4 linked regions of the Homo sapiens genome follow. The protein of the gene in region 1 purifies or fractionates together with the protein of each later gene. This does not show direct contact. Each region holds a gene or a part of one and is shown in the gene's direction. Other genes may lie near its edges.

Evidence for each region. Proteins that work in one complex are often made in the same cells at the same time.
Region 2: the proteins of PHAF1 (region 1) and NUP35 purify together in Homo sapiens (affinity purification with mass spectrometry; 3 studies listed by BioGRID and IntAct, with this or other methods). This does not show direct contact.
Region 3: the proteins of PHAF1 (region 1) and MASTL purify together in Homo sapiens (affinity purification with mass spectrometry; 3 studies listed by BioGRID and IntAct, with this or other methods). This does not show direct contact.
Region 4: the proteins of PHAF1 (region 1) and NEFH purify together in Homo sapiens (affinity purification with mass spectrometry; 3 studies listed by BioGRID and IntAct, with this or other methods). This does not show direct contact.

Annotation. Positions count from the first base shown.
Region 1 is NC_000016.10:67,140,941-67,144,440, forward strand, and holds part of PHAF1 (phagosome assembly factor 1), read left to right. Parts: intron 1-3,353; coding exon 3,354-3,436; intron 3,437-3,500. UniProt on the Homo sapiens protein: Plays a regulatory role in autophagic activity. In complex with BCAS3, associates with the autophagosome formation site during both non-selective and selective autophagy.
Region 2 is NC_000002.12:183,158,812-183,162,180, forward strand, and holds the end of NUP35 (nucleoporin NUP35), read left to right. Parts: intron 1-676; coding exon 677-841; intron 842-2,242; coding exon 2,243-2,320; 3' UTR 2,321-2,869; downstream 2,870-3,369. UniProt on the Homo sapiens protein: Functions as a component of the nuclear pore complex (NPC).
Region 3 is NC_000010.11:27,172,352-27,175,851, forward strand, and holds part of MASTL (serine/threonine-protein kinase greatwall), read left to right. Parts: intron 1-766; coding exon 767-908; intron 909-3,500. UniProt on the Homo sapiens protein: Serine/threonine kinase that plays a key role in M phase by acting as a regulator of mitosis entry and maintenance.
Region 4 is NC_000022.11:29,478,957-29,483,017, forward strand, and holds the start of NEFH (neurofilament heavy polypeptide), read left to right. Parts: upstream 1-1,261; 5' UTR 1,262-1,306; coding exon 1,307-2,189; intron 2,190-4,061. UniProt on the Homo sapiens protein: Neurofilaments usually contain three intermediate filament proteins: NEFL, NEFM, and NEFH which are involved in the maintenance of neuronal caliber. NEFH has an important function in mature axons that is not subserved by the two smaller NF proteins.

The DNA of each region.
Region 1 (3,500 bases):
ACTGAAAAGGATTGGAGACAGTGGGGTGTGCTTGTATATTTTTAGAGGACCACCCCAGAGGCATTGCTGTATCCCTGTGCTATGGACCCAGGGAGCTGGATATAGCTGGTAGCTGGCCAGTGCGGACAGTCCAGCTGGTGGGTGAGTTGCATACATGAGAAATTATTGTATAAACAGTGTTTCAGCAGGAAACATCTCAAGAGGGCAGGGCTGGCCTGGACCATGGGTCTTGTAACCTTTGAGCCTTCTACGGTCTGAGGTCCTGAGGTAGCAAACAGTAGATTTCACAGAGGGAGTGAGGAGAGACTGAGTCTGCCTAAGTGGGAAAGACCAAACACAGGAGCCAAGAGTAGTAGGGGAGCTGATGTCCGGTCATGAACTCCTGAGAGTAGGATGGCGGCAGGAGGGAACAGTGCTGTTGCAGCTGGACCTCTGGTTCAAGGGCCAGTGATGATAGTATCTCAAGAAACTTAGGGTGTTGCTTTTCCAGCTGGAAACTACTTTGGCCGGTGGCACCTTTGCCCCAATTTTTGCTTGCTCCCGCTGGGCTCATTCAGCTCACTCAGCCTGGCAGGCTGCGCTTAGCTCATGCTACCAGCCTGGATCCCATGCCTGCCAAGGGCAAGCCAGGCATGGAGTGGCAAGGGGTGTGTGAGCGAGTGAATGTGGCATCCGGCCACTGTGCCCAGCCAGGCATGCTGACTGCTGTGGTGGGGCAGGCAGCTCCAGGCGCCAGCATAGGCACCAGCTCCACGTAAGGGTGAGGCTAGATCACGTGTACCGCAAGCGGCTTCCATTGCGGGCACCCATGTCTGGACAAGGAGAATGCGGTGGCACCCGGAAGCTTGGGGACACCAAGAACCACACAGAGCCCCAAACAGGGTGTCACAGCTCTGGCTCGGGGAGCTCCTAGGTCTGGGCTTCCTGAAGGGCTGCAGCTCTTCTCTTCTTGTCACCCACAATGTGGAAAGCGGGGCAGGGCATTTCAGCCTTATTTGTGTTACACCTCTTTCAGTCCCACCATTCGGTGGGTCCCGAGTTCTTGTCCTGCGGCCAGGAAGAATGAGGTATGCAGACAGCTGGAGGGTGAGCAAAAAGGAGAGGAGCTTTATTGGGCAACAGAACAGTTCAGAGGAGACCCATGGTGGGTAGCTCTTTCTGCAGGCAGGTCATCCTGACGAGTATCCAGCTCTCAGCAGAGAGAAGACCCATAGTGGGTAGCTTCTTTCTGTAGGCAGGTCATCCTGAGGAGTCAAGGAGTCCTGAAGTGGGTAGCTTCTTCCCACAGTTGGTAGTATTGACATCTGTCCAAGTCTGGCTGAATCCAGGGTTTTTATGGGCTCAGAAGGGAGGAAGTGCATGCTGATTGGTCCATGAGCAGGCCCGGAAAAAGCACCATAAATTCTCACTCCACCCACAGACTACCCAGAGCTGGCAGCCCGGCCCCCAGGCCTCAGGCCATCCCAGGCTTGAAGGTGGGGTTTCACCTCAGACCAAGCCCTTTCTGCCCAGGAGCCCTTCTGCTTCCTACCACCATCAGCGTGCCATCCATGGTGCCCATGCTGTTCATGCCGAGGCGGCAGGGGGCTAGTGTGTCAGTGCTGCCCTGAGTGCGTGCACTCCCAACCAGGTCGTGACAGCGCCTGGGCTCAGCCACAACTTTGCCCCTCCCCAGAGCAGGCACCGGGAGTGGGGAGAGGCTAGGTAGTGGGAGCAGGCACTTTCAAGCCTGCCGGGGCAAGGGGCCTTCTGGGCCCCTGAGAGTGCAGGGATGCCAGGGTCTGGAGCTGCAGCTGGGAGGCTGCAGCTACACCCAGGAGCATGGGCTCCTGCCCTGCCAACTTAGTAGAGGCCAGGGCTCTCACCTGTTCCCAGTTCCCATAGGCTCTGCATAGTTCTATGGGAAAACAGAGGTCCCGGCCACACTTCCTCTGCTCCAGTCGGCATCCTTGCAGCGGCCACTCCAGATGGGCCATTGCTGCCATCAATAGGTGACAGGGAAGATGGAGAGAATGGACTGGCCTCAGTAGGACTTAGTTGGCTGTGGGTACAGGGGTAGAGTCAGAGGTTACCCTGAGGTCACGGGCCCAAGCAGCTGGATGGATATGAAGCTGGAAAGGGTAGGGGATAGGAGGGAAGTGTTCACTGGGTGGCATCAAATCCAGGTCCAAGTCCTAGAGAGAGGTCAGGCTGGAACTTCAGTTCCTGGGGTTGCTGACTCCCACAGAGGGTGTAATGGAAGCCAGGAGGGTCTGATGGATTGTGGAATTCAGAATAGTCAAGTGGCCTTCAGCCCCTCAAGAACCAGGTGACTTGGCCAGCATGGTGGCTCACGCCTGTAATCCCAGCACTTTGGGAGGCCAAGGTGGGTGGATCACCTGAGGTCAGGAGTTCGAGACCAACCTGACCAATATGGTGAAACCCCCATCTCCACTAAAATTACAAAAATTAGCCGGGCGTGGTGGTGTGCACCTGTATTCTCAACTCAAGGAATCCTCCTGCCTTGGCCTCCCAAAGTCCTGAGTCTGCATCCTCGGATTCTCTTGGCTCTGCTGCTTACCATCTGGGCACCACGCTAGGTGACTTACTGCACCTCCTGGGGCCTTGGTTTCCTCATCTGTAAAGAGGAACCTGCCTTGAAAGTTTGTAAAGCACCTTTATTCAGTAAATCTTTATTGAGTACCTACTGTGTGCCAGGCACTACTCTAGGAGTTCGGGATACAGCAGTGAAGAACACAGACGGACAACCCTGCCCTCACGGAGCTTATATTCAGAGGGAAGAAAGCCACTTAGCAGGACAAAGAGCTAAAATGGATAGTACAGTGTGTTGAGAGGTAACACACATGACAGAAAAGATAAGGTATGGGGCCAGGCACGGTGGCTCACACCTGTAATGCCAGCACTTTGGGAGGCCGAGGTGGGCGGATCACCTGAGGTCAGGAGTTTGAGACCAGGCTGGCCAACATGGTGAAACCCCGTCTCTACTAAAAATAAAAATAAATTAAAAAAAAAACAGCCAGGCGTGGTGGTGGGCGCCTGTAATCCCAGCTACTCGGGAGGCTGAGGCAGGAGAATTGCTTGAACCCAGGAGACAGAGGTTACAGTGAGCTGACACAGTGCCACTGCACTCCAGCCTCCATGACAGAGTGAGACTCCATCTCAAAAAAGAAGAAAGAAAATGTCTAAAAGCTGCTTGGCCTGTCCCCTGGACTGTTGTCTGGAAGAAAGGTGATGCCTGCAGGCATTCTTGCTGTGGAGTGCACTGGATGTCCCAAGTTGGACATGCCTTTGGAAAGGCCTCTGCCCTGCCTCAGTAACATTCCCTCCTTGAGTACCCTTGTTTTCTATCCCAGGACATCCTCTTTGATGCGAATACACACAAAGTGAAGAAGTTTGTTCTACACACCAATTACCCTGGGCATTATAATTTCAACATGTGAGTACACCTGTCTGTACCTCCCCTCTGTGAAGTGAGTTTTGGGCTGAAAACCCCAGGAAAG
Region 2 (3,369 bases), on another chromosome or scaffold:
TAGTTAACTTTTAAATGTCAAAGGTTTTCGTTTCAAAATATTTCTGTTTAAAACTATTTTAAAATTATTCTATATATACTCATTAAATAGTACAGAGTACAATTTAAACTGTTCTTTGTGGCTTGTTAAATCATTGTGAACATTCTTTAAGTATATGTGAACTTGTACTACATTCCAGGCATTGTGCTTGGTGCTAGTATACACACATTAATGAACAAAGCAAGATGTGGTTCCTATTCTTAAAATCTGTTATATCAGTGTAGTTATATAGTTATAATACTGTGCTGTAACAAATGTTTGCAGAGGCCAGAAGAATATTTGGGGTAACTAAGTGCTAAATAGCACTGGAGTTTGATTCTTTCCAATCCAGGTTTCCCTAAGAATTTTTTTGTCCTTGCTGATTTTTCATAGTGTTTTAGGAAATTCTTATTTTTGTGGTCTATAGTTGTATTGAGATTGTTTGAGGTCACTGAAGTGAGATTTCTGTCTGAGCATTCAATCTCAAATGCTACCTAAGAAGCAAATATTTTCTCAAGCCTAAAATTATTTGCAAGTTTAATTAGAGCAAATAAAGTATTTCATCTTTATCTTTTAATTAAATTTTCTAAGTAGGATGTAATACTGGATGATATGTATTATGTTTATAAACAAAGGAGTTATTTCTTTGTTTCTCCAGAGTGTTATGGAAAGCAGTGACAGATGTGCTTTATCATCTCCATCTTTAGCCTTTACACCACCAATCAAAACTCTAGGTACACCAACACAACCTGGAAGTACTCCTAGGATTTCTACCATGAGACCTCTTGCTACAGCATACAAAGCCTCTACTAGTGATTATCAGGTATTTTAAGGATTGGATAAAAAAAGATGTACTTTAATGGCTGAGTGCATAGCATGCTTAACTTTTTCATTGTATTGATTTGTATGCCATTAAATGTTTCCTGTGGAGGCTATTACCTTGATGAAACCTTTACGCTTTAAAAGTTTTCTGCTTTAAAGTTAACATCTTGGCCAATTGGAAAGTTATCATGAATTAAAAAAAAAAAATTATTTGCCATTCCTTTAAATTTTTTGAAAGTTGTTTTAGCTTTTTCTAAGTTATATTTGCATACATACGAAATGTATCCTGTGTGCATCTTTGACATGAGGGCGCATTAAAACTTTATTAAATTGATGACTAAATTGATGGTATCCAAAGTGCAGAACCTTAGGTTGGAGTAGCTTTGGTTATTTAAATGAAGACATTGACCAACCTCCAGACAGAAAAAAATTTCTCACTTCAAAAAAGCTTAAAGAAGTTAATTATGTTCTTTGAAGAATGGTAGAAGTATTATGATCTCATTCAGTATATTATTGTCTCCTACTGACTAGCCAAGTGTTCGAACTTAACCAGCTGCAGAAACAGGTCCTGAAACACACAGTACATGAAACACTTGTGCTTTAGTAGGGCAGATAGTGGTAGTTCAGTTTTTTGACTTCCTCTGAAATTTGGAGATTATTCTAGAACTGTTTTTTTCTTTAGGTTCTATTACTGTTATTTTAAATTTCCCATTCAGTGCAGCTTTTGTTATTCAATTTTTCTTTCTTTTGTTTTGAGACGGAATGTCTCTCTGTTACCTAGGCTGGAGTACAGTGGTGCTATCCCAGCTCACTGCAACCTCTGCCTCCTGGGTTCAGGTGATTCTCCTGCCTCAGCCTCCTGAGTAGATTACAGGCACGTGCCACCACGCCCAGCTAATTTTTTGTATTTTTAGTAGAGATGGGACCATGTTGGCCAGGGTGGTCTCAAACTTTTGACCTCAAGTAATCTGCCCACCTTGGCCTCCCAAAGTGCTGGGATTACAGACCTGAGCCACTGCGCCCAGCTATTCAATTTTCTAATTTAAGAAACAGATGTTATTTGCTTTGCCAAAGGAATAAAATTTTGGCATTCTTAAAAGCATAAGGATATTCTAAGTCCATATTTTAATTTTAAAAATATACAATTCAGGCCGGGCGCAGGGGCTCATGCCTGTAATCCCAGCACTTTGGCAGGCCGAGGCGGGCGGATCACGAGGTCAGGAGATCGAGACCATCCTGGCTAACACGGTGAAACCCCGTCTCTACTAAAAATACAAAAATTTACAATTTAGTGCTATAAATGCATTTTGGTGTTTCTCTTTTAAATGAGCAATTCTAGAATTGCCTATGACACTGAAGTAACAATAACCTAACCGTTTTTTTTGTGTGTGTTTTTTAATAGGTTATTTCTGACAGACAAACGCCAAAAAAAGATGAAAGTCTTGTATCCAAAGCAATGGAGTACATGTTTGGCTGGTAGTAGAACACCAAGAAGGAGGTTGCTACACTAAAACAGAGTTAGCAGAGTGCTGCTGGTTCCTTCGGTTAGTTATATAACTGTTCCTGCAGTATTGGATAGCTATCTCATACTTCTTTTAGAAAGAAGCCTTTTTCATTAAGGATACAACCTATTTGTAGCTCGCACTTTAAAAGATGCTTGAGATACATTTTAAAGAAAACTAAAAATCCCTGTAAATAGGATTTTGTGCTTTCTGTAACAGTGCATGCTTCAGCACAGAAAACTCAGCATTGATTATTGTAAATTAAATAACTGAAATTGTGGTGAGACGTCATAGTCTTCATGAGAACGTGGGGGTGAATTTCATGAAGGGGAACTATAGTTATTTCTACCGACACAAATATTATAATTAGCAATTTGAATTATGGTCTTTTAATTTAGATAGTATTTAATATTTTAATTATCCTTGTTTGTATATGTCCTGTCACAGAGTGTCCTCTTGGTGTATTCTAAAACGAGCATTCTTTTAAAAAACCTAAAGTTTCTTGATAATAAACATTGTCAATGATATGTGTATTAGTCTGTTTGCATTGCTATAAAGGAGTACCTGAGGCAGGATAATTTATTAAAAATAAGAGGTTTATTTGGCTCAGGGTTTAATTGGCTTGTAGCTGTACAAGAAGCATGATGCTTTACTTGTGGAGGAAAGTAAAGAAGAGTGAGCATATCACATGGTGAAAGAGAGGAAGAGAGCAGGAAGAAGGAAGTTCTAGACTCTTTTTAATAACCAGATCTCACATGAACTCATTACTGCAGGGAGGACACCAAGCCATTCATGAGGGATCTGCCCCCATGATCTAAACATCTCCCACTAGTCCCCACTTCCAACATCGGGGACCATATTTCAACATGAGATTTGAAGGGGACAGATATCCAAATGATATCAATATGTATTGAACATTTTTTGAAAGGGTGATTTATTATAAAAAGCTTTAAGTATTCATTGAAAGAGAAAATATGTATGAACCACTATATACCAGCTTTAATTACCATTAAATTTTGCCATACTT
Region 3 (3,500 bases), on another chromosome or scaffold:
CTGTCTTGCTGGTCTTACAAAGTTGTTGTGAATGCCAGGCGTGGTGGCTCACACCATCTTTGGGAGGCCAAGGTGGGAGGATCACCTGAGGTCGGGAGATCGAGACCAGCCTGACCAACATGGAGAAACCCCGTCTCTACTAAAAATACAAAATTAGCCAGGCATGGTGGTGTATGCCTGTAATCCCAGCTACTTGGGAGGCTGAGGCAGGAAAATTCCTTGAACCTGGGAGGCGGAGGTTGTGGTGAGCCGAGATCGCACCACTGCACTCCAGCCTGGGCAACAAGAGCGAAACTCCATCTCAAAAAAAAAAACTTGTTGTGAAATAACAAATTATCCTAAAAATTTTTAAATGCTATTTAGTACAATAGGTTATATGTAGTTCTGTCTTACGTGTTGTCTTAATCATTTGTTAGCCATAGCCTTCCTCAGTGGCTCTTCTTAAGCTTGTATTAGTCCATGCTATCAGTCTTCTTGCAGATTTTTTCACTGAACATTTTTCTTGCAGATTTTTTTTATTGTTTCTTATCTAGATCTTATTGGAATAATCAGTGTTGTCTAAGCTTTTGAACTTCACCAGATAAAAGGACTTTTTCATAATTATAACTAATTATGCATTCATTTTCAAAACTTATCAAAAATTTGACTACATCCTTTACGCCTAGTAGCCTATGAGCTAGTTATTTGGCTTGTGTGTTTCACCATTTTCTATTCGGTGTAAAAGGAATTAAGATATTTGTTATCTCTTAAACCCTTTTTGAATTAGCAGACCCCAAATCAGATCAAGTCGGGAACTCCATACCGAACTCCGAAGAGTGTGAGAAGAGGGGTGGCCCCCGTTGATGATGGGCGAATTCTAGGAACCCCAGACTACCTTGCACCTGAGCTGTTACTAGGCAGGGCCCATGGTAAGGCATGCATGTCTTGAGTTTTTGAAGTGTTATCTATCACTACATTATCTTTCAAGGTTAAATTTTAAAAAATTTCTTCAGTACTTACGTTACCTAAAGTAAAAGAAAATGAACTCATCTAGTATATATATGGCATTTGTCATAGGAAAATAAACTAGCAGTAGCCATGGCTGTCCCACTCTCTGAATGTAAAAGACCAGATGCTGGAGTACATGTAGTCATTTGTCCTTTGCCTTCTGGTTCAGTCTCAATGTTCCAGAGAAGCCCCACCTGCCACCCTTGATATTATCTTATCTCTTTTTTTATTTTTTTATTTATTTTTATTTTTATTTTTTGAGACAGAGTTTCTCTTTTGTCACCCAGGCTGGAGTGCAATGGTGCAATCTCGGCTCACTGCAATCTCTGCCTCCCAGGTTCAAGTGATTCTCTGGCCTCAGCCTCCTGAGTAGCTGGGATTACAGGCATCCACCATCATGCCCGCCTAATTTTTGTATTTTTAGTAGAGACAGTTTCACCATGTTAGCCAGACTGGTCTTTAACTCCTGACCTCAGGTGATCCTCCCACCTTGGCCTCCCAAAGTGCTGGGATTACAGGCGTGAGCCACCGTACCCGGCCTATCTTACCTCTTAATGTTTCTTCAGGTTGGATGGAGTTTGGGCTCAGGACCACAATGTTGGGTCTAAATTTCTGTTCAGTCTTCAGAAGCCTATTCCTGTTTAGAACTTATTCTCAGTTATATCCTTACCAGAAGAGTCAAGCCAGAAATGAACCATCATCCTTCAAAACAGAACATAAGTATAGAAAGATAGGGCTGGTTACGGTGGCTCACGCCTGTAATCCTAGCACTTCGGGAGGCCAAGGCAGGTGGATCACTTGAGGCCAGGAGTTCGAGACCAAGCTGGCCAACATGGTGAAACCTCACCTCTACTAAAAACACAAAAATTAGCTGGGCATGGTGGTGCATGCCTGTAATTCCAGCTATTCGGGAGGCTGGGGCATGAGAATTGCTTGAACCTGGGAGGCCGAGGTTGCAGTGAGCCAAGATCGTGCCACTACACTCGAGCCTGGGCAACAGAGCAAGACTCTGTCTAAAAAAAAATAAAAATAAAAATAAAAAGATGACATTTTCACCTATCTTCTTTTCTTCCCTTTCTCTCTGAAAACTGTTCCCTTCCTGCATTCTGAAATGAACTGTATTCATCTTCCTAGGGATGCTGTAGCACAAACTGGGTGTCTCAAACCAATAAAAATTCATTGTTTCACAGTTCTGGAAGCTAGAGTTCCAAAATCAGGTGTCCACAGGGCTATACTACCCCTGAAACCTGTAGGGAAATCCTTCTTTGCCTCTTCCTGGCTTCTGGTGGCTTGCTGGCAATCCTCAGTGTTCCTTGACTTGAAGATGCCTCATTCCAGTTCTCCCTCTTTCTGTGATGGTGTTCTCCCTGTGTCTCTATCATCATAGAGCTGGCTTCTGAGAAGGACACCAGTCATTAGGAGCCCATCTTACTCCAGTATGACCTCATCTTAACCTAATCTTAACCTAATTAATCATAGTTGCAAAAACCCATTTCCAAATAAGGTCACATTTTTAGGTACGGGTTAGGACTTAAACATAGCTTTTTTGGGAGGGACACAGTTCAACCCATAACATCAACCTCTTCTACATGTTGATGTTAGTTACTTCCCTTTTCTTTGAGCTCTTTTCATGATCATCTGTTTCATCCTCCCCACCCCACCTCTCACACCCTTTCTTCTGTTTGTATTTCCTTGCCGGCTTTTATCCTCAGCCTGAAAATAAGTTTCCACCCTTGTCTCCCCAACATTGCCTAACTTCTCAAAGGTTTCCTCTTTGTTTGATTATTTTGCTCTGGCAACTTATCATCTCACTATTTAACTGAAAATTCTTTTATTTATTATTTATTTATTTATTTATTTAGAGATGGAGTTTTGCTCTTGTTGCCCAGGCTGGAGTGCAGTGGCACGATCTCAGCTCACTGCAACCTCCGTCTCCCGGGTTCAAGATATTCTCCTGCCTCAGCCTCCCGAGTAGCTGGGATTACAGGCATGCGCCACCATGCCCGGCTAATTTTGTATTTTTAGTAGAGATAGGGTTTCTCCATGTTGGTCAGGCTGGTCTCGAACTCCCGACCTCAGGTGATCTGCCTGCCTTGGCCTTCTGAAGTGCTGGGATTACAGGTGTGAGCCATGGCGCCCGGCCTAACTGAAACTTCTTAATGGGCACCAGTGATTTCCTTATTGTCAAATCCAATTGTCTCTTCTCATTCCCCTGACCTCTGTTGCTGCTCTTCAGTTCCTTCCTTACCTCTTCTAAATATAGTTCTTGGAGATTCTGCCTTTACCCTTTTTGCCCTACACGTGCTCCATGTTCATCTCATCACTCCCATGATGTCAGTTTGTCACCTCCATGTTGATGATTCCCAAATCTCTGTCTCTAATCCTGACTTTCTCTAGGCAGCAGACAGACAGCCAATCTGGCTATTCAGTATTCTACTGATCTTTCAAATGTTGGGTCTCAAAACTGGACTTGTGGGGCCTGGTGCTGTGGCACATGGCTGTAATCCCAGCAC
Region 4 (4,061 bases), on another chromosome or scaffold:
GGGGAGGGGGAGGGAGAAAAGAGGACTTCCTAGTGTTGACAGAACGGCAAGATGTGGGTTCCCCATCCCCAGTTCAGCCAGAGACCCCTCAAAGTGGAACTTCCTGGGGCAGTCGGGGGTCAGGAGTTGGAGCTTGTCTCTGGGGCAAGACCCCTTCGTTGTACAGATGGAAAAACAAGGGTGGGAGGACACAGCTTGTCCAAGGTCATTCGACCAGCAAACTGCCTAGCTGACCCCAGTGTGCAGAAGCTGGCTCGGGTGACACCCATCATTTCCCCCCACCCCACACAGGGGCCAGCTCTCTCAACTTCATGCCCAAGCCCTCCTACGGTACCCCCACTGTAGGTTCTCTGCCCCTCAAACTCAGCCCAGCTTTCTCCTGCCTGTTCAGGGGACCTTCTGCCCGCTTCGCTGAGGGTCCGTCCCCTTTACTGGGGCTGGCAGCAGGGTCTCCCATCTCCTCTCTCGGGGGCCACTGCAGACTTTTTAGAGAACGCCTTGCCTCCCCCCAACCCCACCCATCCGGGGTTCCCTCTCTCCATCCTCTGCAGTGTCTCCCATACCCCCATTCAGGGTAGCCTTGCTATTCTCCCCAACTCCAGGTCCCCCTTCATCTATTCCGGGGCTGGCCGCGGAGTTTCCTGAGCGCTCTCCAAGTGGGTCCTCTAGATGTTAGGAGAACACTGTACCTCCCCCGGTCAGGGGTCTCCTGTCTCCGTTCTATGGAGCGTCCATGCTCCCATTCAGGACTGCCTTGCTCCCTCCTCTGTTCCGGGGCTGGCTGCACAGTCTCTGCACCCCCTATCCTGAAAGCCTCTCTTAACTATTTGGAAAGCCTCGTGTCCTGTCTCATACAGGGATCCCCTCATCCTAATGACTGCAATCTTCCATTGCTCCATCCCGAGGGCATCCTGCCCCTATTCCCATCAGGTTTCTCCTTGTCCTCTCCCTGTTTCAAGTCCCCTTTCTTATTCCGAACACACTCGCAGGCTCTTCCGACGCGCACCCGGGGGTCCTCACTGGCCCACTCCGGGAGTCCTCTGCCCGCTTCCCCGACCTCGAGGGTCTCCTCTGACGCAGCGTCGATTCCCCTTCCCTCCTCGGTCCCCTGCCCCGCCCCTCTCACTGCGGCGGAGCCGGTCGGCCGGGGGGCCGCAGGGGAGGAGGCGGAGAGGGCGGGGCCCTCCTCCCCACCCTCTCACTGCCAAGGGGTTGGACCCGGCCGCGGCGGCTATAAAAGGGCCGGCGCCCTGGTGCTGCCGCAGTGCCTCCCGCCCCGTCCCGGCCTCGCGCACCTGCTCAGGCCATGATGAGCTTCGGCGGCGCGGACGCGCTGCTGGGCGCCCCGTTCGCGCCGCTGCATGGCGGCGGCAGCCTCCACTACGCGCTAGCCCGAAAGGGTGGCGCAGGCGGGACGCGCTCCGCCGCTGGCTCCTCCAGCGGCTTCCACTCGTGGACACGGACGTCCGTGAGCTCCGTGTCCGCCTCGCCCAGCCGCTTCCGTGGCGCAGGCGCCGCCTCAAGCACCGACTCGCTGGACACGCTGAGCAACGGGCCGGAGGGCTGCATGGTGGCGGTGGCCACCTCACGCAGTGAGAAGGAGCAGCTGCAGGCGCTGAACGACCGCTTCGCCGGGTACATCGACAAGGTGCGGCAGCTGGAGGCGCACAACCGCAGCCTGGAGGGCGAGGCTGCGGCGCTGCGGCAGCAGCAGGCGGGCCGCTCCGCTATGGGCGAGCTGTACGAGCGCGAGGTCCGCGAGATGCGCGGCGCGGTGCTGCGCCTGGGCGCGGCGCGCGGTCAGCTACGCCTGGAGCAGGAGCACCTGCTCGAGGACATCGCGCACGTGCGCCAGCGCCTAGACGACGAGGCCCGGCAGCGAGAGGAGGCCGAGGCGGCGGCCCGCGCGCTGGCGCGCTTCGCGCAGGAGGCCGAGGCGGCGCGCGTGGACCTGCAGAAGAAGGCGCAGGCGCTGCAGGAGGAGTGCGGCTACCTGCGGCGCCACCACCAGGAAGAGGTGGGCGAGCTGCTCGGCCAGATCCAGGGCTCCGGCGCCGCGCAGGCGCAGATGCAGGCCGAGACGCGCGACGCCCTGAAGTGCGACGTGACGTCGGCGCTGCGCGAGATTCGCGCGCAGCTTGAAGGCCACGCGGTGCAGAGCACGCTGCAGTCCGAGGAGTGGTTCCGAGGTACGCAGGCGCGCGGGTGGGGGGAGGGGCGCCCCTGCTGACCCCGCAGCGAACTTTTGGGCTGCGTGACCCAAGGGGGCGCTGCCGGACTGCGCGTGGAGTGGCGCGCTGCTCACCTTCCCTCTGCAAAGTGCATGCCCCTAGTTAAATCGCAGTTTTACTCTGGGTCTCTTGTGGGACGCCCCAACTCTGGGTTGTCCTTCGGTTCCCCCTTTCCAGGTTCTTTACGGCTGTACTTCAACTCTGGGCCCCCTGCTGCTCTCTACCCCAAGCTTAGGCGACCCCACTCTGAGATCCCTCCCCCGTCAAGAAAAAAACAAGTTTCCTCTACAGGAAAAAAGTGGTGCAGGATTCTGGTCTGCAAGCGCTGGAGACTCTTAGCCCTTCTAAGTAGCAAGGCTTCCCCGCCAATGCTGCCATGCCCTCTCCTACACCCCGCAAGAAACTCTATTCCTCTCACCCCTACCAGGCTCCTTCCCACTACCTGCTCAGTGCTTAACGTTCCTACCTTAAATCTTCCACGTGGGGGTGGGTCAGGACCTTTTCGCATCCTTTCTTCCTAGAGGGAACCATTACTACAGTCAGTTGTTGCCTGTGGCGGAGGTGGCTGGTGGGCCCTTTCATGTTTTAATGTCCCCTTTCTCCTTTAGGGAAGCTGGGAGCCTCCCAAGTCTGCCCCTCCCCCAACTCCTTGCAGCCCTGAGTCAGCTAGATTGCGCTGCCCTGAGGCTGTGCCCAGCAGCTGCAGGGTGACCTTGACCAACACTTGCCCTCTCTGGTTTTCATTTCTTTTTGAGTTGAAAGAGGAGGGTAGATCAACTGGGCTGCTTAATCCGGGGAGTTCCATGATGTCTCACGAAACTGTCTGTAAAACTTTGCGTTGTTTTTGAGAGAGAGGGCAGAGGCTTCAGTGATTTTCCAAAAGCATCTGTGATCGACAATAGTTGAGAATCTCCAACCACCTGGATGGTTTCTAAGTCTTTGCCAGCACTAGCAGGGAAAGCTGGGATTTTGATGCATAGCTTTTTCTGTTCCTTTTCCACTCCTCTGCAGAGCAGAACCATCCCCTCCTCCATCTCCGCAGCAAGGCCCCTCCCTGCGCAAACCTCTTTTGGGTTTGCCAGTCGTAGGGGCAGACGTCCCAGGATTGTACTGGCCCACTCAGCTGGCTTCCTTCCTCCCCGCCAAGACTTGTGCCCTGAGTGCCACTATCTGGGGATTCAGGATGTTCACTTTTACGAGCTAAAGACCAGTCTCCAGACCTCCACTGCCTCTGGAAGGTTTCCTGGGAACCACGAGCGGGTTGCTGGCGGGGGCCGGGGTGTGGCTACCAATGCTCAGGGGCAATGCTCAGCTAGGTGGAGAAAGGGACAGGGGTTGGCACCCAGGCCACGGGCTCTGCACTGACCTTGGACTGTGCGCAGAAACCTGTAAGGAAGGGACCATGGCTACAAGGTGACCTGATTGCTCACGGTACCCTCATGCCTCCTAAAGGTCACAAGCTCATTAACTTGTTCAGCCACAAACCTGCAGCCTCCAGCTCAGTGTTAAGCCCCATGGGCCAGGTATCACATCTGAACCACCAGCACTGCCAGGCCCTTGCTAGGGAGCTGGACCAGGCATTAGGACCAGGGTTTCCTCTGCCCTGCAGGGTTTTTGGATCCCACACTGGGGGAGACAGAGCATGATCTTTGGGGATTTGAGTCCCAGCTCTGCCACTCACTAGCTGGGTGGCCTTGGGGAGTAGTCACTTGCCTTTATCTCACAGGACAGAGTGAGTCAAGCATACAGGATGGTGTCTGGCACACGCAGTAGGTCAATCCACATGTGTCACCTTCAAAATCTGGGCATTAGGCCGGGCGTGGTGGCTCA